2 separate regions of the Homo sapiens genome follow, and region 1 is linked to region 2. The links come from fine-mapping of genetic effects on gene expression. A gene starts in region 2. The other region holds a variant in brackets. All regions are shown on one strand. Distances are between the middles of the regions. Region 1 holds the start of TAOK2 (TAO kinase 2). Region 2 holds the start of KIF22 (kinesin family member 22).

What was found. PIP is the estimated chance that this variant, and not a neighbour inherited with it, causes the effect.
Region 1: its variant is fine-mapped to the expression of KIF22 in tibial artery (GTEx, PIP 0.99).

Annotation. Positions count from the first base shown.
Region 1 is chr16:29,965,765-29,976,969 of GRCh38, reverse strand. It overlaps TMEM219 (transmembrane protein 219), which reads right to left. Exons shown (of 6, transcript NM_001083613.2): 4 at 8,716-8,945; 5 at 5,392-5,562; 6 at 3,922-4,020. The coding sequence ends at 5,425. It overlaps TAOK2 (TAO kinase 2), which reads right to left and starts at 3,102. Exons shown (of 16, transcript NM_016151.4): 1 at 2,322-3,102. It overlaps LOC124903762, which reads right to left and starts at 3,348. Exons shown (of 2, transcript XM_047435036.1): 1 at 3,190-3,348; 2 at 2,335-2,973. The coding sequence starts at 3,348. The coding sequence ends at 2,335. RefSeq lists enhancers at 209-708, 709-1,210, 2,012-2,141, 1,848-2,619 and a silencer at 3,043-3,412. The variant T/C (reference allele first, on the strand shown) is at 4,357.
Region 2 is chr16:29,786,483-29,797,687 of GRCh38, reverse strand. KIF22 (kinesin family member 22) reads right to left here and starts at 6,937. Exons shown (of 14, transcript NM_007317.3): 1 at 6,859-6,937; 2 at 600-795. The coding sequence starts at 6,928. LOC105371167 (a long non-coding RNA gene) reads right to left here and starts at 10,175. Exons shown (of 2, transcript XR_950983.1): 1 at 10,142-10,175; 2 at 9,565-9,766. RefSeq lists an enhancer at 7,127-7,526.

The DNA of each region.
Region 1 (11,205 bases), 180 kb before region 2:
ACTATGATTTCCCCTATCTTACAGATAAAGAAACAGGCTCAGCAAGGTTAAGTGCCTTGTCCAAAGCTGGTCCTCCATCACTATGATTTCAGAGCAGCCCTTCGAAACAGGCAGGGCAGAATCATGATCACCATTTCCTAGGTGAGGTCACTGAGGCACAGAGAAGAAAAAGGACTTCTCCAAGGTCAGAGAACAGGACCTTCGGCTCCCCGGTTAGGCCTGTATCCATTACTCTCTCAGCTGTCACCCCAAGCTCAGCTCCCCTCTTGCAGGAAGCCTGTCCTGACCACTCCAGCCATTGGGAAGAGCACCTAGGGCACCCAACCAAACACCCGGAGAAAGTTCCTGCAGGATACCAGAACCAAAACCCTCAAGGAGATTCCAAGACAGGCTCCAGCCTAAGCACTTGTCAGAATTTAGGCACAAAGGAGCCTTCAGCAGAGCTGGACTCCTGGGGCAGAGTTCTAGCTACTCAAAAGCACCTAACAATTTTAGCATGTAATTTATTCTGTCATGCATTGTTTCCTGTTGTGTTGTTAATTTTGTCTCAGCCCAACTGGAAGCTGGAGGGCAAGGAGGGAGCCTGACTCTCCAGTGGGCCCCCAGGGTGCAGAGGGCTCAGAATAGCCTGGGAGACTGAGTGATTGCTCTCTGCTCAGCCCTCAGCAGCTCGCAGGTTGCTCAAAGCCGGCCCTTTTCTCCCTTCTGCCAGCAACAGTGCCAAGCACCCCTCACCAGCACCACACACCCACACACAAAGGCAGGTGCTCTCAACTTGCCAAAGGAATCTTCCTGACCTCTTTACCAACACAAGGCCCCAGAATGCTAACCTAGGCCACACGGAGGGGTGCCACCCACTGGCAAAACATCATGCAGGTCCCCTTCCCCATAATAACAACAAACACTTGAACAATAACCAAGGTCTGTGCTAAATCATAACCACCTTCCAAAACGAACAATGTTATCTCCATTCTACAGATGAGGAAACCCGTATCTATCTGTTCCTAAGCTATGCTACCAGTACATCCCGTCTGCAATGTACAGCAACAGGGCTTTAAATAAGTTCCTTCCAGTTCTTGGTCTTCTCTTCAGTGAAATGGATTACAGCATGGAGCTGTTGTTAAGATTTTAATGAGATCTCATACTTAGGAACACCATGCAGACACTCAGCATATGGATTTTTCCTTCCCTGCCTCCAAGGTCCCCACAAAGCTTTAATCCTTTGGGGGATCATTCTACCCCAACAGCTTGGCTTGAACAGTTAAAAGATGCCACTAGTGCTACCATTTGTCAGGAGAGAGCCCTCTCAGGAATCCAGGCCAAACCCTGGGATTGGGGTAAAGATGAAGGTCACAGTGGATAGAAAACTCCATGAGGCAGAGGCAAAAGCCAGAGGCTCCCATCAGGAAAAGCTTCTGAGTAGAGCCCTCCTGGAAAGGAAGCTCATCTCATCCCCATTCTTAAACCTCACCCCAGCCTGGACTCCTAGGGACCCCTGGCCGAGCCCAAACTCAGAGGAAAAGAGATGGCAAGAACCAGGCATGCATCAGGGAAAGATGTGATTGAGGACTTGAGTTCAAATTCTGGTTCTGCCACTGTGTGACCTTGGGCAACCTCTCTCGGCCTCAACGTTCTCAACTGTAAAATGGGAAGATGCCAATAAAAGAGGCCCCCACAGGGTGAATGCGGGGATGTCACATGAGAGAATGGCTGTCAAAGCACTTTGTAAAAGACAGATCGTTTGACAAATGGATGAGATTATTGACACCATCACAGCAAGAGGTTGGAAGGTAACTGCAGCTGGGGGAAAACATTGCCAGGCACCTCCAAGCACACACACACACGCATACACACAAACACATATACACACACTTCCTTGCAAGGACAAGAAATCCAACCAGACCAGGCCTGAAAAGCAGATAAGCAGACCCACCATGGGAATCAGAGGCATGGGAATCAAAACCACAGAATAGCCAGGAGAACGGGACATATCAGGGAGGAGAGGTGGCTGTGAGGGGCAAAGTGAAGGAGAGAAGACTGAAGTGCAAATCCATCTGATTAGCTGAAGCACCCTAGGGTGTGAACGCCGGTGACATCAGAGACCCTGTCACCTGAGGTCCCCCACCAACCAGACACAATGAAGGGAAGAGGAAGGGGAAGGGGGTGGCAACAGAAGGCAAGGCTAGCCAGAGGCTGACCACTCGCTCAGCTGGGCTTCCCCATCCTGAGAGGGCCTACCCAAGTCCAGCTTCTCAGAAAGGCGCACCCTTTCTTCTCAGAACTAGACACAGGGACCCGCGCCCCTGCACCCCGTGTCTCACCTGGTAGGGGTCACTATGGTGCCCCAGCGCCTCCGCTTCCGCCTGGGGTCCTCCAGCGGCTCTGCCAAGCAGGGAGAGGGGCAAGGAGACCTTTCCCCTTGCCACCTCTTCCTCGGCTTTCGCCCTTCCTGAGGGGCGGGCCCGGGAAGCCTCCCCTGGAGGGGAGGGGGTGACAACCTAATCTGACCTCGCGGTCCAGTCCTCCCCCTCGTCGAGGGCGACAGCTGCCGAATTCCGGATTTCTGATTGTGGGGTCTGAACCCCGAATATCTGAACGGGATGGAGACTGAATCCGATATTTGAACGCCCGGGGAATGAACCCCGGATACTGGTGCACGCAGGGGCCTGAACCTGATATTTGAAATTCTATGAAACAGAGACCCAGGTTTAGAGAGGTTGGGACCCGAGTCCCGGATATCTGGACTATGAGGACTGTTACCCGGGTATCTGAGAAAGGAGGAGGGGCAAAGCCTGGAAATTTGGGACCCAGGGGCCTGAGCTGTAGGTCTTCGGCCACCGACTGGGGGCCCACCCCGAGGACGTCCGGCCGCACGGCCCCTCTCACGCCGGGGTCCGAGGGTGACAGCCCCCACTCCCGCCCCGGCCTCCTCCCTCTCCCTTCTCTCTTCCGAGAATAGCTGAACGATTGTAGCTAAGGTGCTGCTGACGGTCCCCGCGCCCTCTCTGCCTCTCCTCTTCTCCGTCTCAGCCTCTCTCCGCACCACAGCCCCGGTCTCGTCCCGGTCTCCCTCTCCCTCTTCCTCCCAATTCCAAGATGGAGACCGGGCGGGAGCGCGCAGGCGCGGTAGGGACGCCGGGCTAAAGGGGGCGGGGGCGCAGAGGACTCAGCCCCGCCCTCTCTCCTCACTGCCGCGGCCTGGGAGACCGGCAGCCGCCAAGCCCGAGTGCGCGCCCGCCCCGCCACGCGGACCCCAGGCCGGAGGAGGCGGGGAGAAGAGCTAGACTTGCAAGGGGAGGAGCCCGGCACTCTGTCCCACGACTGGCGGTGGACAGAGCTGCAGCGCATGCGCTCGCCCCGCCTTCGCTCTGAGCCCGAGCTTGTTGCTAGGGGAAGCTTTGAGGGGGCGCGGGTGGACGGACAGCAGCGGCGATCTGCGACTGCGCGCAGGGTGGAAGTTGGGAGGGGCAAAGGAAGCTGCTGCTGGGCGCGGAAAAGGCGGGAAAATAGACTGCTCCGAGGTTAGCAACCATCTAACCTGGAAAAGGGCCTCCAAGTGCGAGGAATCTTTGCGCGTCGACGCTGGGAAAACTCAATCGGTCAAATCTCTTACGGAAATTGAGGCGCTGCAGGTTGCAAGACTTGCCAAGGTCACAGTGCATTTATGTCACAGCATTTCCATGACCTGACACCCCACCCGCCCAACTAACTGTAATTATCCATTTTATTTCGTAGAAGAAAACAAGACAGGTGTTTACCAAAGCCAAGTCAACCATGGGGAGAGCTCAAGTAACCTATGCCCTATGCCAACCTGTGTCCAAACTAGAGAGTCAACAGGAAAGAGTCCCCCAAAACTTCTAAGCCTGCCTACCCTAAAATCCCCACCTCAATCCAACCCCCAATAAACACCATACACGCCACTGGGCAAAAAAGCTTTTTATTTTCCCCCACATTCCAGCTCTTCACTTTTTCTAAAACCTTTTCCAACTCAGAGCCAAGGCCCAAGAAGTTGATTCACACCTGGGGAGAAAGAAAATAAAACAACAAAACAGGTCGAAGAGCTGCTAGAGGAAGCTCTGAGATGTGTGCAGAAATTGAGGAAGGAGCAGAGGGAGTGACAGCTAGAGACCAATACGGGCATTTAATCCCAACTAAGGTAGCCTCAGGACCCCAGGGTCTGTCAGGGGCCAGGAAGCCCTCCTTTCCCAGTCCAAGGTTGAGAGGGTCCTGTCATTTCCTGTCCCAAGTAGGTGGTTGGGGCATTTAGGCCCAGCCATCAGCAAAATAAGCACAGTTGATCTTGAGCTTCCACTTCCTCTGGCCTGATCAGTTCCCTGGGCCTCAACTATTTCCACT[T/C]TTCCCATAGTAACTTCCTAGGGCACTGCAGCCAGCTGAAGCTGAGACCAGTTCAAGAGCTGGATGCATAACACATGGCTCTCAAATTTCATGCACCCCCCTCTGACAAGTGAAGATTTTTTGCAGAAATATTTTTTCCTTTAGTGAGCTGATGTGTGAACTGGTTAACCAACATGACCCCCACCCACTGCTACGTTTGTGAAGCTGATTCCCTCCAAAGATCTTGTTAACGGAATCAGCTTTTTCTAAAGGTAACGATGACTAAATGGAAGACAGAAGGTGCATGTCAAGTTCTTGGGCACATACTATGTCCCCAGTAAATGAGTATCATCAGTTAGACTCTTCTGAGCGGTTCAAGTTGAATTTTACAAAATTTCCATCATAAAACTGGGTATTGGAATTTCAGGACAAAAGCAAGACAAACATGGTTCATATTCAGGACAAATCATCAAATGTGAACCCTCTTAACTCACCATTGTTACCCAAATGCTTGGATGTGAACTAGTTATGAGTCTTAAAATCACAATGTTGCTTGAAAGAAGTCAGCCACAAAAGAATGTGTATGATTCTGTCTACATAGTTTCAAAAATAAGTAAAACCAAACTATATTATTTAGGAATACATACATGGCAATACATTATAAAGCAGGACAGTAATTTCTAGGGAGAGAGAGGGCATTGTCAGGAAGGAAGGGACCATGGGGGGTTTCTGGACAGCTGGTAATATTCTACTCAGTGGTATTTATAAGTATCCACTTTATAATAATTTGCCAAGCTGTCCTTTTATACTATTGGACTTTTCTACATAAGTGTTAACTATTTTATAATAAAAAAGTTAAAGTAATTAGAAAAATATTGAATGCTGACGGTGTCAAATTGTTCCCAGTCCCTAAGGGAGAGCTGTGGTTGAAGAGGTTCTCGGGGACTCAGAAGCAGCAGTCTTTGAGGAAAAGTCCAAGGATCTGCTCTACCCCGGTTACAACCCCCACCCCCACCCCATTCCCTGCTCCCGCAGGACTGGAGCAAAGAACCTCACCTGAGAAACAAGTCGGGAACTAGGCCAGTGCCCTCAGAGCCGGGTTCTAGACCAGTGGGACTCCCGGCGCGGGTGGAAGCACATAGCAGTGACACAGCAGAGAAGGCCACAGAAGAGAAGCAGGAAGGAGCCCAAGACCAGCAGCCTGGAGCCACACAGAGCCAGCTCCTCCTAGGGAGGGGTACAGGGAGAGGAGGAGGAGGACATGTTAATCCAGTCCAAGGGCTATAGAAGGAGCCTCCATGAGGGAGAGGGCTCTCCACATCTAGGGAGCAACTGAAGGGAAAATGTTATTTTCATATAAGCTGACATTTGTCTTTTTTTTTTTTTTTTGAGATGGAGTCTTGCTCTGTCGCCCAGGCTAGAGTGCAGTGGCGCGATCTCAGCTCACTGCAAGCTCCGCCTCCTGGGTTCACGCCATTCTCCTGCCTCAGCCTCCCAAGTAGCTGGGACTACAGGTGCCCGCCACCACGCCTGGCTCATTTTTTGTATTTTTAGTAGAGACGGGGTTTCACCGTGTTAGCCAGGATGGTCTTGATCTCCTGACCTCATGATCCGCCCACCTCGGCCTCCCAAAGTGCTGGGATTACAGGCGTGAAACACCGCGCCTGGCCCTTTTTTTTTTTTTTCTTTTTGAGGCAGGGTCTCACTCTGTAACTCAGGCTGGAGTGCAGTAGTGCAATCTCGGCTCACTGCAACCTCCGCCTCCTGGGCTCCAGCGATCTTCCCACCTCAGCCTCCTGAGTAGCTGGGACCACAGGTGTGTGCCACCACGCCCAGCTAATTTTTTGTGTGTTTTTTTGTAGAGATGGGGTTTCACCATGTTGCCCAGGCTCGAACATTTGTCTTGATGGTTTAAAAACTACTTTCTTGCCCAATTATCAACCTGAAACCCCATCATAACTCCATGAGATAGGAAACTTCATTATGATCCACAGTTTAAAGATGTATAAGTGGCTGGGTGCGGTGGCTCACACCTGTAATCCCAGCACTTTGAGAGGCCGAGGTGGGTGGATCACGAGGTCAGGAGATTGAGACCATCCTGGCTAACACAGTGAAACCCCATCTCTACTAAAAATACAAAAACTTAGCCGGGCATGGTGGCGGGCGCCTGTAGTCCCAGCTACTTGGGAGGCTGAGGCAGGAGAATGGCGTGAACCTGGGAGGCGGAGCTTGCAGTAAGCTGAGATTGCGCCACTGCACTCCCGCCTGGGCGATAGAGCAAGACTCCATCTCAAAAAAAAAAAAAAAAAAAGTGCAAGCAGTGCTAGATCTGGAAACCAGATCTCTGATTCCAAGTCCCAGGTTGTGCTCCTCATGGGGTCTTTTCTTTTTTTCTTTATTTGAGACGGAGTCTCACTCTGTTGCCCAGGCTGGAGTGCAGTGGCATGATCTCAGCTCACTACAACCTCTGCCTCCCAGGTTCCAGAGATTCTCCTGCCTCAGCCTCCTGAGTAGCTGGGATCACAGACGCCCGCCACAACATCCAGCTAATTTTTAAATTTTTAGTAGAGATGGGGTTTCACCATGTTGGCCAGGCTGGTCCTGACCTCAAGTGATCCACCGGCCTTGGCCTCCCAAAGTGCTGGGATTACAGGCGTGAGCCACCGTGCCTCATGGGGTATTTTCAAATGTGAGAGTGGAGTGTGCAGCAGCCTCCTGACTGATGGCCCTCCTCCACTCAGCCATTCTCCACCCAGCACCAGGGAAGCACATCTCTCTCCTCCTTAAAACTCCTCAGTGGCCCCCACGGCCTTCAGCATCAGGTCATAGCCCTCTATCCTGCATTCACAGAGCCTCTCCATCAAATCCCTGTGGTCTCTCTTGCCTTTTCTCCTTCCTAAGCCTCTCAACATGGAGTGCTCCCAAAGGCTGAACACTTTCTTTTTTTTTCCTTCTTGAGACAGGGTCTCACTCTGGCAACCAGGCTGGAGTGCAGTGGCACAATCATGGCTCACTGCAGCCTCAAACTCCTGGGATCAAAGGATCCTCCCACCTCAGCCTCCTGAGTAGCTGGGACTATAGGTGTGTACCACCACACCCTGCTAATTAAAAAAAAAAATGTTTTTTTTAAGAAATGGGGTCGCCAGGCGCAGTGGCTCACACCTGTAATCCCAGCACTTTGGGAGGCTGAGGTGGGTGGATCACGAGGTCAGGAGATTGAGATCATCCTGGCTAACAAGGTGAAACCCTGTCTCTACTAAAAATACAAAAATTAGCCGGGCATGGTGGCAGGCGCCTGTAGTCCCAGCTACTCGGGAGCCTGAGGCAGGAGAATGGCATGAACCTGTGAGGTGGAGCTTGCAGTGAGCCGAGATTGTGCCACTGCACCCCAGCCTGGGTAACAGAGTGAGACTCCGTCTCAAAAAAAAAAAAAAAAAAAAAAGCGAAAAAGAAACGAGGTCTTGCTATGTTCTCCAGGCTGGTCTGGAACTCCTGGCCTCAGGCATTCTCCTTGCTTCGGCCTTCCAAAGTGCTGGGATTACAGATGTGACACCTGGCTGAACACTTTTCAATCTCTAGGCCTGTGCGCATGCTGGTGCCTTTGCCTGGAGTGTACCTCCCCCTCTCCTGAACCTCCTCTACTGCAGTCCCTGTCCAAATCTTCCTCATTCTTCAAGGATCATTCTGACTTGACAGAAGGTGTGGGTTGCAACCCTGGCTCTGCCACTTAACCAGTTGTGTGGCCTGCAGCAATTCACTCCCTTTCTCTAAACCTGTTTCCTCATCTGTAAAATGGGATAATAACACCTACCTCAAAAGGCTATTTTAAGATCAAATGAATTAATGAACCCTGAGAGCACTTTGTGCATTATAAACCACTGTGCACAATGCTCTCTGGTAAATGCCACCTTCTCTGTGATGCACTCTCCATAAATGTTCAAGTTAGGGTTAATGGCTCCTTTCTCTGTGTTTGCATAACACTTTGCTCACATCTCTCTAATAGCAATTAGCCCATTTGCCTCTTATTATAGCTTCTGAACTCCTTTGAAGTAGAGAGAATGTTTTAAAGACAATAGTAAACAACAATAGCTGTCACTTATCAAATCTCTATGTCCCAGGCAATGTGCTGGGCACTTCACGGTCATTCTCATTTAATCCTTATTTGATGGAATTAAGAGATAGGGTCATGTTTTCTGTTTTACAGATGAGGATGCTGACACTCAGAGATGTTTAGACACTTGTTCTACGTCACACAGCCCCCAAGGCAGGGTTATAAAACCTGTGCTTTTTCTACAAGGTAGAATTGTTTCCAGGGACCTTCAAGATACAGTAGTCAGCAGGCAGTCTACAAAACCCTGGCGACCCATCTGAGGCTCTTACCGAGGTGAGCAGCTTGGTCAGCACAAGGCCTTCATGGCTCCAGACACTAACACATTCCTCACCCATTCTAGGGCTCAGGGTGGCATTTCCAGCCCCCTCCTCTGAGCAGGATATGGGTGGCTGGCTGGAGGGTAGGATTCCTGGAACAGCACTAAAATATAGGCAGGTTCCTGCAGTCCTTTCTGTGGTCACCCTGGCTGTGATAAGGACCAGTTGTCCTGCAGAAGATCCTGTGAAAGGCACAGAAGAGAAAATGGAAGAAAATGAGAGGTGACGCGGGAGCCTCTGTCTTCACGCTTCTTTTCTTGTATTTTCTTTTTTTTTTTTTGAGGCGGAGTCTCGCTCTATCACCCAGGCTGGAGTGCAGTGGCGCAATCTCGGCTCACTGCAAGCTCCGCCTCCCGGGTTCACACCATTCTCCTGCCTCAGTCTCCCGAGTAGCTGGGACTACAGGTGCCCACCACCAGGCCCAGCTAATTTTTTGTATTTTTAGTAGAGACGGGGTTTCACTGTGGTAGCCAGGATGGTCTTGATCTCCTGACCTCGTGATCCGCCCGCCTTGGCCTCCCAAAGTGCTGGGATTACAGGCGTGAGCCACCGTGCCCGGCCCTTTTCTTGTATTTTCTTTCTTTCTTTATTTTTTTGAGATGGGGTCTCACTTTGTCGTGCAGGTTGGAGTGCAGTGGCACGATCCCAGCTCACGGGAGCCTCAACCTCCTAGGCTCAAGTGATCCTCCCACCTCAGTCTCCTGAGTAGGCAGGGCTACAAGTGTGTGCCACCTACCTGGCTAATTTAAAAAAATTTTTTTGTAGAGACAGGGTATCACTGTATTGCCCGGGCTGGACTCAAACTCCTGGGCTCAAGCCATCCTGCTACCCTGACCTCCCAAAATGTTGGGATTCCAGGCATGAACCACCACGCCTGCCCCTAGTCATTTTTTAAGGCTTTCTATAATACCAGGTGTTTTGGCATTGATTCTATTCAATAAAGTATTCCATATACCATTATTTATATCACTGAGAAATGAAAATAACTTTGTATCAATATAAACACAAATTAAGTTGTAATTTAAATTAACTTAAATTACAATCAATACAACAACCATACTAATACTCGCAAGGCTGCAGTGAAATGGGCAGATACACATTGCCCATGTCAGTTTGCATAAACTAGTTCATTCTTTTTAAGAAAGCAGTTTCTCACTTGGTACCAAAATCCATTAAAAGGTTCTCACCCTATTTTAAATTAGTGGGGAAAGGATGGCCTCAGTAAATGGCCTTGGGAAAATTTCCATGTAGAAAAAAACATAGCGTCAAACTGTTATCTTATAAAATAAAGTTCAGATGTATTAAAGAACTATACAAACTAAAAAAAAACTTAAGTATTTAAAGAAAATACAGAATATTTTATTTTATTTTATTTTATTTTATTATTTTTGAGACAGAGTTTCACTCTTGTTGCCCAGGCTGGAGTGCAGTGGTGCAATCTCAGCTCACTGCAACCTCCACCTCCTAGGTTTAAGCAATTCTCCTGCCTCAGCCTTGTGAGTAGCTGGGATTACAGGTGCCCACGACCATGCCTGGCTAATTTTTTGTATTTTTAGTAGAGACGGGGTTTCATCATGTTGGCCAGGCCAGTCTTGAACTCCTGACCTCAGGTGATCCACCTGCCTCAGCCTTCCAAAGGCTGGGATTATAGGAATGAGCCACCACGCCTGGCCAGAATATTTTCTAATTTTAAAATGAGGAAGGGCTTCCTATGAAAGACACAAAACCTAAAAGTTTTAATAAAGGACAAGAGTGATAAACCTAACCTCATAAAAATTAAAGACTTCTATGCAATGAAAGATAAGTTAAAAAAACAAGTAACATATTGAAAATACCTATAATATATTTAAATGACAAAAGGTTTACTATCTAGAATAAAGACCTACAAATCAAGAAGAAAAAGACAAATAACTTAAAAGAAAAAGGAACAAAGGAAACAAACAGGTAATTCACAGGCAACATGAATACAGACAATAAACCATAAGAGGCTCAACCTTACTAGCAATCAAGAGAAAGTAAATAAAACAATTGGGTAATACGCCAGACCCGGTAGCTCATGCCTGTAATCCCAGCACTTTGGGAGGTGAGGCAGGAGGATCACTTGAGCCCAGTAGTTTGAAACTAGCCTGGGCAACATAGTGAGACCACATCTCTATAAAAAATACAAAAATTGGCCAGGCGCAGTGGCTCACACCTGTAATCCCAGCACTTTGGGAGGCCAAGGCGGGCGGATCATGAGGTCAGGAGTTCAAGACCAGCCTGGCCAACATGGTGAAACCCCATCTCTACTAAAAATACAAAAATTAGCTGGGCATGGTGCCACATGCCTGTAATCCCAGCTACTTGGGAGACTGAGGCAGGAGAATCTCCTGAAACTGGGAGGCAGAGGTTCAGTGAGCTGAGATCGCATCACTGCCCTCCAGTCTGGGTGACAGAGCAAGA
Region 2 (11,205 bases):
GCCATGTGTTCCTTTTACAACTACTCAACTCTGCCACTGTAGTCAGAAAGCAGCTATAGACAATATGTAAATAAACGATAAAATTTTATTTACTGAAAATCTTACTCCTGATCAGATTTGACCTGCAGGCCATGGTTTGCCAGCCCCCGCCTAGAAAAACAGGCCAAGGAGTTTGAACTTTAAATCCCCAGTAGGATTATAAAGTAGCTGCCCTTCTGAGTTCTGTCCCCAAATCTGGGTGGTCTTCTCTGACACTACCCAGCTGCAGCTTGGGTAGGCTGGCTGGCAGGTCTGTGTTCCGCCAACCCTCCTGATATGTCCCCCAGCCTCTACTTGGGGCTCACCTGCTCACCCTCATTGCTCCTCCCTCTCTGTGCACAGTAATGTATGTTTGATTCAACCTCTCATCTCTCCCTACAGTATCCCAGAGAGGGCCCATCATGGGGGCACCTGTCAACATTTCCTAAGTGAACAGTGAAGGCTCAGGGAACAAAGCGGTGCTAAGGAGGGAGCAAGGATCCTGGGGAGGCAGGGGAACGTGGGCAGGCCTAGGAGAGGGAGGTGATGGCATGAGGGAAGAGGAGTGGCCTGAACCTTACTGGTATTTGAGAGTCTCCTGGTGGTTCCTCCAGTTAGCAATCTCTAGAGAGCAGCTGTCCATGCCCCGCACACAGGGGGGATCACTTGCTCCCGCTGTTCCATCCACAAATGGCCGCAGTCGCACAGCCACCCTTACGCGAGCTGGAGGTGGACGACGAGTAGCTCCAATCTTGCTTAGCCGACAGCGACCAGCTCCTGGAGGAGAGAAGATCACTTTTAGACATGAAGTATGGTGGTAGCAGAAGAAGCAGGGACCAACTTTGCTGGGCGGGCTGGGGGCCACAGCTCATGTTGGAGAAGCTCATTCTGCCCTGGTCATGTTGTGGACACCCCTAAGCTTGGCCTCAGTGCCTTCCCTGCTCTACAAGCAAGTGCAGCAGGTGTATAGCAGGCTTCTCAGACTGTAATGTATACACAAATAACCTGGAGGATCTTGTGAAAATGTGGATTTGGTCTCCGTCTCCCTGGGGTGATGCCCGAGATTTTGCATTTCTAACAAGCTCCCAGGTGATGCTGGGCACTTAAAAAAAAAAAAGAGAGAGAGAGGGATGGAGTCTCACTAGGTTACCCAGGCTTGTCTTCAACTCCTGGGCTCCAGCGATCCTCCTACCTCAGCCTCCCAAAGTGCTGGAATTATAGGCAGGAGCCACCATGCCTGGCCCAGGACATGTTTTGAATTGCCAAGGGTGAAGTAGACCAGCACCTCACAGGGTTGTTCTAAGGATTAAAAGGGTTGACATCTGACCGAAACCTAAACCAGAGAGCGAACTGCCAGAATTTTCTGTGTGTGTGTGTGTGTGTGTTTTTTTTTTTTTTTTTGAGACAGTCTTGCTCTGTCACCCAGGCTGGAGTGCAGTGGCATGATCTCAGCTCACTGCAACCTCCACCTCCCAGGTTCAAGCGATCCTCCCACCTCAGCCTCTCGAGTAGCTGGGATTACAGGTCCCCAACACCACTCCTGGCTAGTTTTTGTATCTTCAGTAGAAACAGGGTTTCACCATGTTGGCCAGGCTGGTCTCAAATTCCTGACCTCAAGTGATCTGCCTGCCTTGGCCTCCCAAAGTGCTAGGATTATAGGTGTGAGCCACCCTGCCCAGCCTGTACCTCCATTTCTTAACTGGGGTTTCTAATATGTATTGAGACGTATGTATACTCACAGACCCACCCACCCCTGCAAACTGTTAATGATGATCTTCTCTTGATGGGGAATTATGTGGGTTCTGCAAAAACCACCGACATGCAATTCTTCTCTCATGTAAACTTAACCCTGAATTTGCTTCAGATGATTAAGTTTTTTTTGTTTTGTTTTGTTTTAGAATTGGCAACTGAATTATTTTTATCATCAGAAAACACAATGAAGATAAAACTTAAAAAAAGAAAAGCCCTCTATTTTTGTGGGGGTTAAATGAGCTGAAAATATCTAAGGAGAGTATTACTCTATTTTACGTTGGAGGATAACATACTGTAGCTCATAGTGGAATTCAAACCTAGATCTCTTCCCCTCTAAAAATCTGCTTTTAATAGGATGCTGTATTGCTTCCTTATTATGTACCAACTGGGAAAGCTCCTGGCAGCTCTTTCCCTTCCTTGCTGGTGGTAGCAGCTGGTTGCTAGGAGCCATAGGCCTCGCAGAAGGCAAAAGGCTGGCTGGTATACGTAGCCAACACAGAAACAGCAAGACGAAAAGGCAGACAGATGACCCCTACAAAGAATCTTACACCTAAGTAAGGCATGCCCATAAGCAGACGGGCTGTTTCAAAAACTGAACCTCCATTCCATCATCTGATAAATGGGGCTACTAATACCATTTCTCACGTTATGGTAGCAAAGCGCTTGGACATCTAGTTCTCATTTGTTCCTCATGGCAATCCTGAAAGTCAGGAGCAAGCAGGTAAAAACCTGCAGATGCATGTGTGCAGATAGAAAACTGAGGTGCACTGACTTGTCAAAAATATGTGCAGGACCTTCCTCTGCCTGCTTTCACAGGATGTTTTGGGAGAACAGAAAGATGGCAGATGTAGAAGCACTTAAGGAAGCGCAGTGATCAATCTAAGGGGAAGGGGAAGTCAGTAATGAGGTAGAGTGTAGACTCTGGTCAGACAGAAGTGGACTTCAATTCCAGCTCTGACATTTATTAGCTTGTGACCTTGGACCTTGGTTTCCTTGTCTGTAAAATAAGGTTGGGGGTGGGCCTTGGGCTTTTTGAGAATTTGGCCGGGCGCAGTGGTTCATGCCTGTAATCCCAGCGCTTTGGGAGGCCAAGGTGGGCAGATCACCTGAGGTCAGGAGTTCGAGACCAGCGTGGTGGTGAAACCCTGCCTCTACTAAAAATACAAAAATTAGTCAGGTATGGTGGTGGACGCCTGTAATCCCAGCTACTTGGGAGGCTGAGGCACAAGAATTGCTTGAATGCGGGAAGTGGAGGTTGCAGTGAGCAGAGATTGCGCCACTGCACTCCAGCCTGGGTGACAGAGCAAGACTGTGTCTCAGAAAAAAAAAAGATAATTGAAATAAGTGCCAGATAAAGTGGCAGCACAGTGACTAGCACATAGTAGGTAGGTTCATCATTCAAGGTAAAATGGCCTGGGTTGAAATCCCAGCTCTGCCATTTACAGCTAGCTAAGTAACCTAGGGAAATTATTTTCCATCCCAGTGCCTCAATTTCCTTACCTGCAAAATGGGAATAAAAATACCTCTTTGTTAGGTTGTTAGGAGAGTAATTAAGGTGATTCATGTAAAAGTGCTTAGAACATTATCTGGTATTTGGTGAAAGGCCAGTAAGTGCTTTTTAATGTCCGTCTCCCATTTTCCAGATGAGGAAACCTCAGTATAGAGGGGTTAGCTGACTGACCCAGGGTCAACAGCTAGTGACTGACAGCTTCAAATGAAGATCTAACTCCAAAGTGCTTTATATGAACCCTCCTCAGCCTCCTTAGCCCCTTCATCTTTGCATCTCATAAGAATGTGAGGATTCAAAGTAATAATGTACATACAATGTTTAGCACAGTGCCTGGCAGCAACTGCTCAGTCCTTAGCTGTTATTATTACACCCTTTCTCTTGCTACCCACTCCTCCATCCCTGCAACTTGCTTCTGCCCTCACTATTCAGCAGGGTCACCCATGACTTCCCTAGTGCTAGATCCAGTAGGCATACTCAGCCTCAATCCTGTTGGACCTCCCAGAAGTATGCGACACTCTTGGGAAACACACTTTTCCCTTCATTTCCATGCCCCCCACCTTCCTGGTTGTCTTACCTAGTTTTCTGTTCACTCCTCATCCTAGGATCCGTCTATCCTTTCTCTAGACCAGCATTTCTCAACTTCAGCACTACTGACATTTCGGGCTGGCTAATTCCGTTGTGGGGCTGTCCTGTGCATTTAGACTGTTAGCATATGCTTACTAGATGCCAGTAGCATTCTCCACCCTCACCCTCAAGTTGTAACAACTAAAAATCTCTCCAGACATCTCCAAATGTCCTGTGAGGGACAAAGTTGCCCCGAGCTGAGACCACTCAGATTCATTTCATAGGCAGGTCACCCGCCCTCTTGGCTTCAGTAACATCTTACAGCTGATAAGTCCTATTGCACGTTCTGCACAAGAGCTCTCAACTGCAGCCCACGTTCTGAACGGCTGCCCTGACGGCTCCTTTTTTTTGAGACAGAATCTCACTGTCGCCAGGCTGGAGTGCAGTGGCGCTCTTGGCTCACTGCAATCTCCGCCTCCCGGTTCAAGCGATTCTCCTGCCTCAGCCTCCCGAATAGCTGGGACTACAGGTGCACGCCACCACGCCCAGCTAATTTTTGATTAATTTTAGAGACAGGGTTTCACCATGTTGGCCAAGATGGTCTCGATCTCTTGACCTCGTGATCCACCCACCTTGGTCTCCCAAAATGCTGGGATTACAGGCGTGAGCCCAGCCGACGGCTCCTCTTAAACTCCACCTGTCCTAAACTGAACCCTCCTTCCCCATCTCTCTGCAGCCTCCTCCTTTGATCTCTGATGTAAATGAATGGCACCAACCCCAAAAGTGGGAGTCTTTAACTCCAACGTCTCTTACCTCCCACATCAGTTCATCATTAACATCTGTCAAGTCTATCTCTTTAAATCTCTCTTGAACAAGTCCACTTCTCTCCACTCCCACTGCACTACCTCTGCCCAAGGTCATGGTCTTTACAGCCTTCCTTGCTGGTGGTAGCAAGGTGTCTCCCTGCCCTCTAGTCATTCCCTCTGTTTCCTTCCTTGCAGTGTAAGTTACCAGTCATGATGAATTTCCTTCACTTCCTACAAAACTCCAAGTTCTCTTGCACCTTTGGATTTTTGTCCACGTTAATCTCTCTCCCTAGAATATCTGCATTGCTCCCCACCCCACCCTGGAGTGACTAAGGTAAACACATTTTAACTCCTCTTAAAAAACAAAACCAAAAACCCTTTCCTGGTAGACACTAAGGCTTTATCAGGTGCAACCACAGCTCATGTTAGCCCCTCCATAAGCATTTGTCACACCCCACTATTGCGTGTTTGTCACTTTCTCCACCTGACTGCCAACTGTGAGAACAAGTTTTATCCTGCTCACCTTTCTAACCCCAACACCTGGCGCAGAGTAGGCCCTCAAGAAGTATTTGCTGAAAAAAATTAAGATTTAGTGAATAAACTACTAATCACTGGCTTGTTCATTTCCATCATGAAAATGGCTCACGGCCATTCCTGCCCCAGGGCTCACAGTCCAGGGTAGGAGGGAAGAGGGGAGGGCCACATGTAAACAATTATTTACTGCACAAGAGTCTAGCCCTTTCATGATAAAAGCAACCTTGAGCTTGGACCAGGCTAGCAATTATTAATTTTCCCTTCTTTCACAATTCCTAAATTTCATTCACTCTTCTCCCTTTTATTGATGAGGAAATTGAGCTAAGAGAGCATCTTACATCATAAATAAGAAAACACTTGCTGTTCTTGTCTTCTTAGTCAAGGCCTGGCAAACTCCTATCCAACCTTTGAAACCCATCTCAAGTATCATTCACTCCCTTAATGAAGTCCTCCCAGAATACTCAAGGGCTTACTTCAGATTCCACACCCTCAGTTTATACACATCTCTCATTGTGTTTCGTATTACATCTACGTATGTGACACTCTATTGAAACAGACTGTAAATTCCTCGAGGAAGGGACATTATTCATTCAGGCATTTTCATATCTACCATGCACCGGACACAGTGCATCTTCGAAGGGTAAGGGGAGACTGTGCTCAGCCAGCAGGGATAACATGTACTTGGGCATAATGGTTAAGAGCAGAGGTTCTACACTCAGACTCCTTGAGAGCGAATTCAAGCCCCAATATTTACTAGTTGTGTTAACTCTGAACAAACTAACCTCAGTTTCCTGTGTAAAACAAAGACAGTAATAGTAACAACCTGATAGCATTGTGTGGACAATAAATGGTTCACCACCATAAAATGCCTACAACTGTGCCTGGCACATAGCAAGAGCTCTACATGTGTTAGGCATTCTCCTAAATGTCTGTTTCCCCACGAGGCTAACGAGGGCTCCAGTGAATTACTATGGCGCTCACCATCATCACTAACGAGGATTAAGTCTCCGGGTTAGAGAGGCACATGTAAACAAATACTCACATACAAGATTTTGGGTGTCCTAACAGCCTTTCCAACCCTAAAATAGCATTCACTTCCATGCTAGAGTGAAAGGAAATTTTAGTCTTTTATTTCGTTTTCCTGTAATCGCAGAGCATCTTACGCTGCCAACTCAAACCCAGCAGCAGCCGGGTCTGTTCCTCAGCCCGTCCTCTTGCATCTCTCAGGGATGTCTCTGCACCCAAACACCATGTCCCACACAGAACCCTTCCCAATACACGCCTCCGGCTCCCTTCTTCTCGTCCTCGTGGCTAGAGCGTCCGCCACTCTTCTCTTGCTTATTCAGGTGATCTCCAGGGATGAGGCCATGACCCCCGTTTCACAGACGAAGAAACCGAAGCTCACAAAGAAAAAGTGCGCGGGGTTCAAGCCAAGAGCCTGGACCGGAGACCCGAGTCTACTGACCCAAGGGGAGAGCAGGAAACAGGGAGAAGGCAGGAGCCAGGCGGGGCGACCGGCTCGCGACCCCACACTCTCACCGTCCCCCTCTCCCCGCCCCTGCGCCATGGCCGCCTCTCCGCGACAACCCGCAGAGCCTGGACCACACTCCGACACATAACTCCCACTAAACTCCAGACGTCGGTACCCGCCTTGCCCAGGCCGGGCTCAAGTACCTGAGATCGCCGCCGCTGAAGCTGCCGCCATCTCGCGTCGCCTCTGCTGCGTCGAGCCGCCCGCGGCCATTCCACTCCCTCCTTGGGCCCGCCTCTCCCATTCGAATTCCCCGGTGCCCCGCCCCCTCTCCCAGGTTCCACCAATCAAGACTACGCGCCGCCGGAAGCTGCTGCGTGTGGGTCGCCACTATCCCGCCTTCCAGCGCTCGCCTCCGGGTCCCCAAGAAAAGGTTCCCCTGGTCAGGACGCATGCGCGCGCGTGGGCCGCGCAGCCGTTGATGTCTGGAAGCGCGCTGCGATACAAACCCCTACGCAGGGATGTTGGCGACGGTGGCCGCTGGGGGAGCTGCTCAGCGCCGCCCGGCACTGGGCTCCCTTTCCCTTTACTTTCTGCAGTTTCTTGCCTCCGTGGGTGGTTGGCGCGTCTGCGGAGCCAGGGTCGTTGTGTGGATCGTGGGACTGCAGCCCCAGCCAAAGGGCTATCACGTCTGGTCGGTTCTGTAGATCTGGGCCCCAGGGGCTGGACTCTGGGCAGTCACGTTGCAGTCGCTGCCTGCTGGGCCCAAGGCCACTGTAGGTCCCCTCGCGTCCGTGTCAGCCCAGGAGAGCAGCTTGGATGTTCCTGTCTTTATAACTTGGCACTCAGCACGTCGGCGAAGCGTGGAAAACGCTTAGTCTGTGATTCAGTCCCACTCACCCACGGTTCCGGTTCCCAGTCCTTAAGAGTACAGCAGTCCGTTGAGTAGCTCTCTGTCCTTTCTGAAGGGTTGGCTAGGGACGGTCATTCCACTTTTGAGCACCAGGTAGGTAGGGCCCAGGTTTAGACATTATGTTCCACCCTGTTGAACAACAAAACAAAACACGGGCCGGGCGCGGTGGCTCAGTCCTGTAATCCCAGCACTTTGGGAGGCTGAGGCGGGAGGCTCACCTGAGGTGAGGAGCTCGAGACCAGCCTGGCCAACATGGCGAAACCCCGTCTCTACTAAAAACACAAAAATTAGCCGGGGATGGTGGCACGCCTGTAGTCCTAGCTACTCGGGAGGCTGAGGCAGGAGAATCGCTTGAACCCGGGAGGTGTAGGTTGCAATGAGCCGAGATGGTGCCACCGCACTCCAGCCACGGCGCCAGAGTGAGACTCCGTCTCAAAACAAAAAACACAAATCTTAGATCAGTGTTTCTGAAACGTTTTGCCTTGGGATCCCACTACAGTTTTTAAAAATGAGGCCTCCAAAGATGTTTTGTGTATATGAGGGTTTTTGTTTTTTTGTTTTTGAGACGGGGTTTCACTTCCATCTCCCAGGCTAGAGTGCAGTGGCTCAATCTCGGTTCACTCCAACCTCTGCCTCTTGGGTTCAAGTGATTCTCCTGCCTCAGCCTCCCGAGTAGCTGGGATTACAGGTGTGCACCACCACGCTCAGCTAATTTTTGTATTTTTATGGAGACAGGGTTTCACCATGTTGGCCAGGCTGGTCTCAAACTCCTGACCTCAAGTGATCCACCCGCCTTGGCCTCCCAAAGTGCTGGGATTACAGGTGTGAACCACCAGGCCTGGCCGTATATACTGTGTGTGAAGTGAAACTAAATTAAAGTTGACATTAATGAATTTAAAAATTACAGTAAAAAACCCATAGACATAAAAAGGACATCTAAGTAGTGGTTGCCAGGGGATGGTGAGGGGCTGAGGAGCTGGCACTACAGCAATAGATATAACGAGTTTCTTTTGGGGGTGATGGAAATATTAAATATTTTGGAATGAAGTAGTGATGATGGCTGCGTAACGTAATAAACATACTAAAAACCAGAGAGGTGTGCACTTTTTTTTTTTGAGACATAGTCTCTCTCTGTTGCTCAGGCTGGAGTGCAGTGGCGCAATCTCAGCTCACCGTAACCTCCGCCTCCTGGGTTCAAGCAATTCTCCTGCCTCAGCCTCCCGAGTAGCTGGGATTACAGGCATGCACCACCGTGCATGGCTGATTTTGTGTTTTTAGTAGAGACGGGGTTTCTCCATGTTGGTCAGGCTGGTCTTGAACTCATGACCTCAGGTGATCCATCCGCCTCGGCCTCCCAAAGTGCTGGGATTACAGACGTGAGCTACCAAGCCCTGCCTAGACCTCCATCTCTTTTTTTTTTTGAGACGGAGTCTCGCTCTGTGGCCCAGGCCGGAGTGCAGTGGCGCCATCTCGGCTCACTGCAAGCTCCACCTCCCGGGTTCACGCCACTCTTCTGCCTCAGCCTCCCGAGTAGCTGGGACTACAGGCACCTGCCACCACGCCCGGCTAATTTTTTGTATTTTTAGTAGAGACGGGGTTTCACCGTGTTAGCCAGGATGGTCTTGATATCCTGACCTCGTGATCCACCCGCCTCGGCCTCCCAAAGTGCTGGGATTACAGGCGTGAGCCACTGTGCCTGGCCTACCTCCATCTCTTAAAAAATAAAATTAGCCAGGCATGGTGGCACACACCTATATTCCCAGCTACTTGGGAGGCTGAGGTGGGAGGATTGCTTAAGCCCAGGAGTTTGAGGCTGCAGTGAGCCGTGATGGTGCCACTGCACTCTGGCTTCAGTGACAGAGGGAGACCTTGTCTCAAAGACACACAAAAAAACTAGATTCTCATATCTGCTTCTGCATTCATGCTGTTGTGATGTCACATATAATATAGTATTTTGAATACTCCACTATATACTTGAGAAACAATGCAAGAGAAGTCAATTGGTATCTTAGTTTTATTATGAAAATAGTTTTGAACTTGTAGACCCACTGAAAGTGTCTCAGGGACTCCCAGAAGTCTCTGGACCATACTTTGAGAACATCTGACATTGGCAATTGGCAGTTTGGTCTTCCTTGCCTGTCAGAAAAGGCTGTTCAGTTTTCACATTTGTTGTCAACTCCAGATATTTGGTAAGAAACCTGCCAGAAATAGTGAAAAGAGCATAGATCAAGGAGATAGGGCTTCTATGTTTGAATAAACCATTTAGGTACAGGGCCTTGGTGCCAGGCTGCCCAGACCAGAGATTTAGCCTCTTTGTGCCTCCATTTCCTCAGATATTAAAAGGGAATAATGGTTGAAATACCTCCTAGGGTTGTTTTAAGGATCTGCATCTGGCTGGTAGAAATTAGGGTGGTTTGGCCAGGCGTGGTGGCTCATGCCTGTAATCTCAACACTTTGGGAGGCTGAGGCGGGCAGATCACCTGAAGTCAGGAGTTTGACACTAGCCTGGCCAACATGGGGAAACCCTGTCTCTACTAAAGACACAAAAATTACCCCGGCGTGGTGGCACACACCTGTAATCCCAGCTATTCAGGAGGCTGAGGCAGGAGAATCACTTGAACACAGGAGTTGGAGGTTGCAGTGAGCTGAGATTGCACCACTGCACTCCAGCCTGAGGGACAGAGCAAGACTCCATCTGAAAGAAAAAAAATTAGCCAGATGTGGTGGCATGTGCCTATAGTCCCAGCTACTTGGGAGACTGAGGCAGGAGGATCGCTTGAACCCAGGAAGTGGAGGTTGCAGTGAGCTGAGGTCATGCCTGTGCACTCCTGCTGGGATGACAGAGAAAGAAACAATTGATTTTTAAAAAATAACTTCCAGGCCGGGTGCAGTGGCTCACGCCTGTAATCTCAGCACTTTGGGAGGCTGAGGCAGGCAGATCATGAGGTCAGGAGATCGAGGCCATCCTGACTAACACGGTGAAACCCCGTCTCTACTAAAAATACAAAAAACTAGCTGGGCGTGGTGGCGGGTGCCTGTAGTTCCAGCTACTCGGAAGGCTGAGGCAGGAGAATGGCGTTAACTCGGGAGGCAGAGCTTGCAGTGAGCCGAGATGGCACCACTGCACTCCAGCCTGGGTGACAGTTGGAGACTCCTCAAAAAAAGGCTGCTCACGATGGCTCACGCCTGTAATCCCAGCACTTTAGGAGGCCGAGATGGGCGGATCACAAGGTCAGGAGATTGAGACCATCCTGGCTAACACGGTGAAACCCCGTCTCTACTAAAAATACAAAAAATTAGCCAGGTGTGGGGCGGGCGCCTGTAGTCCCAGCTACTCGGGAGGCTGAGGCAGAAGGATGGCGTGAACCCAGGAGGCGGAGCTTGCAGTGAGCCGAGATGGCGCCACTGCACTCCAGCCTGGGCGACAGAGTGAGACTCTGTCTCAAAAAAAAAAAAAAAAAAAAAAATTCCAAACTATGTCTTTAAAAGAAGCAAAGGAGGTCAGATGTAGTGGCTCATTCCTGTAATCCCAGCACTTTGGGAGGCTAAGGTGGGAGGATAGCTTGGGTCTAGGAGTCCAAGACCAGTCTGGGCAACCTAGTGAGACCCTTCTCTACAAAACATTTTAAAATTAGCC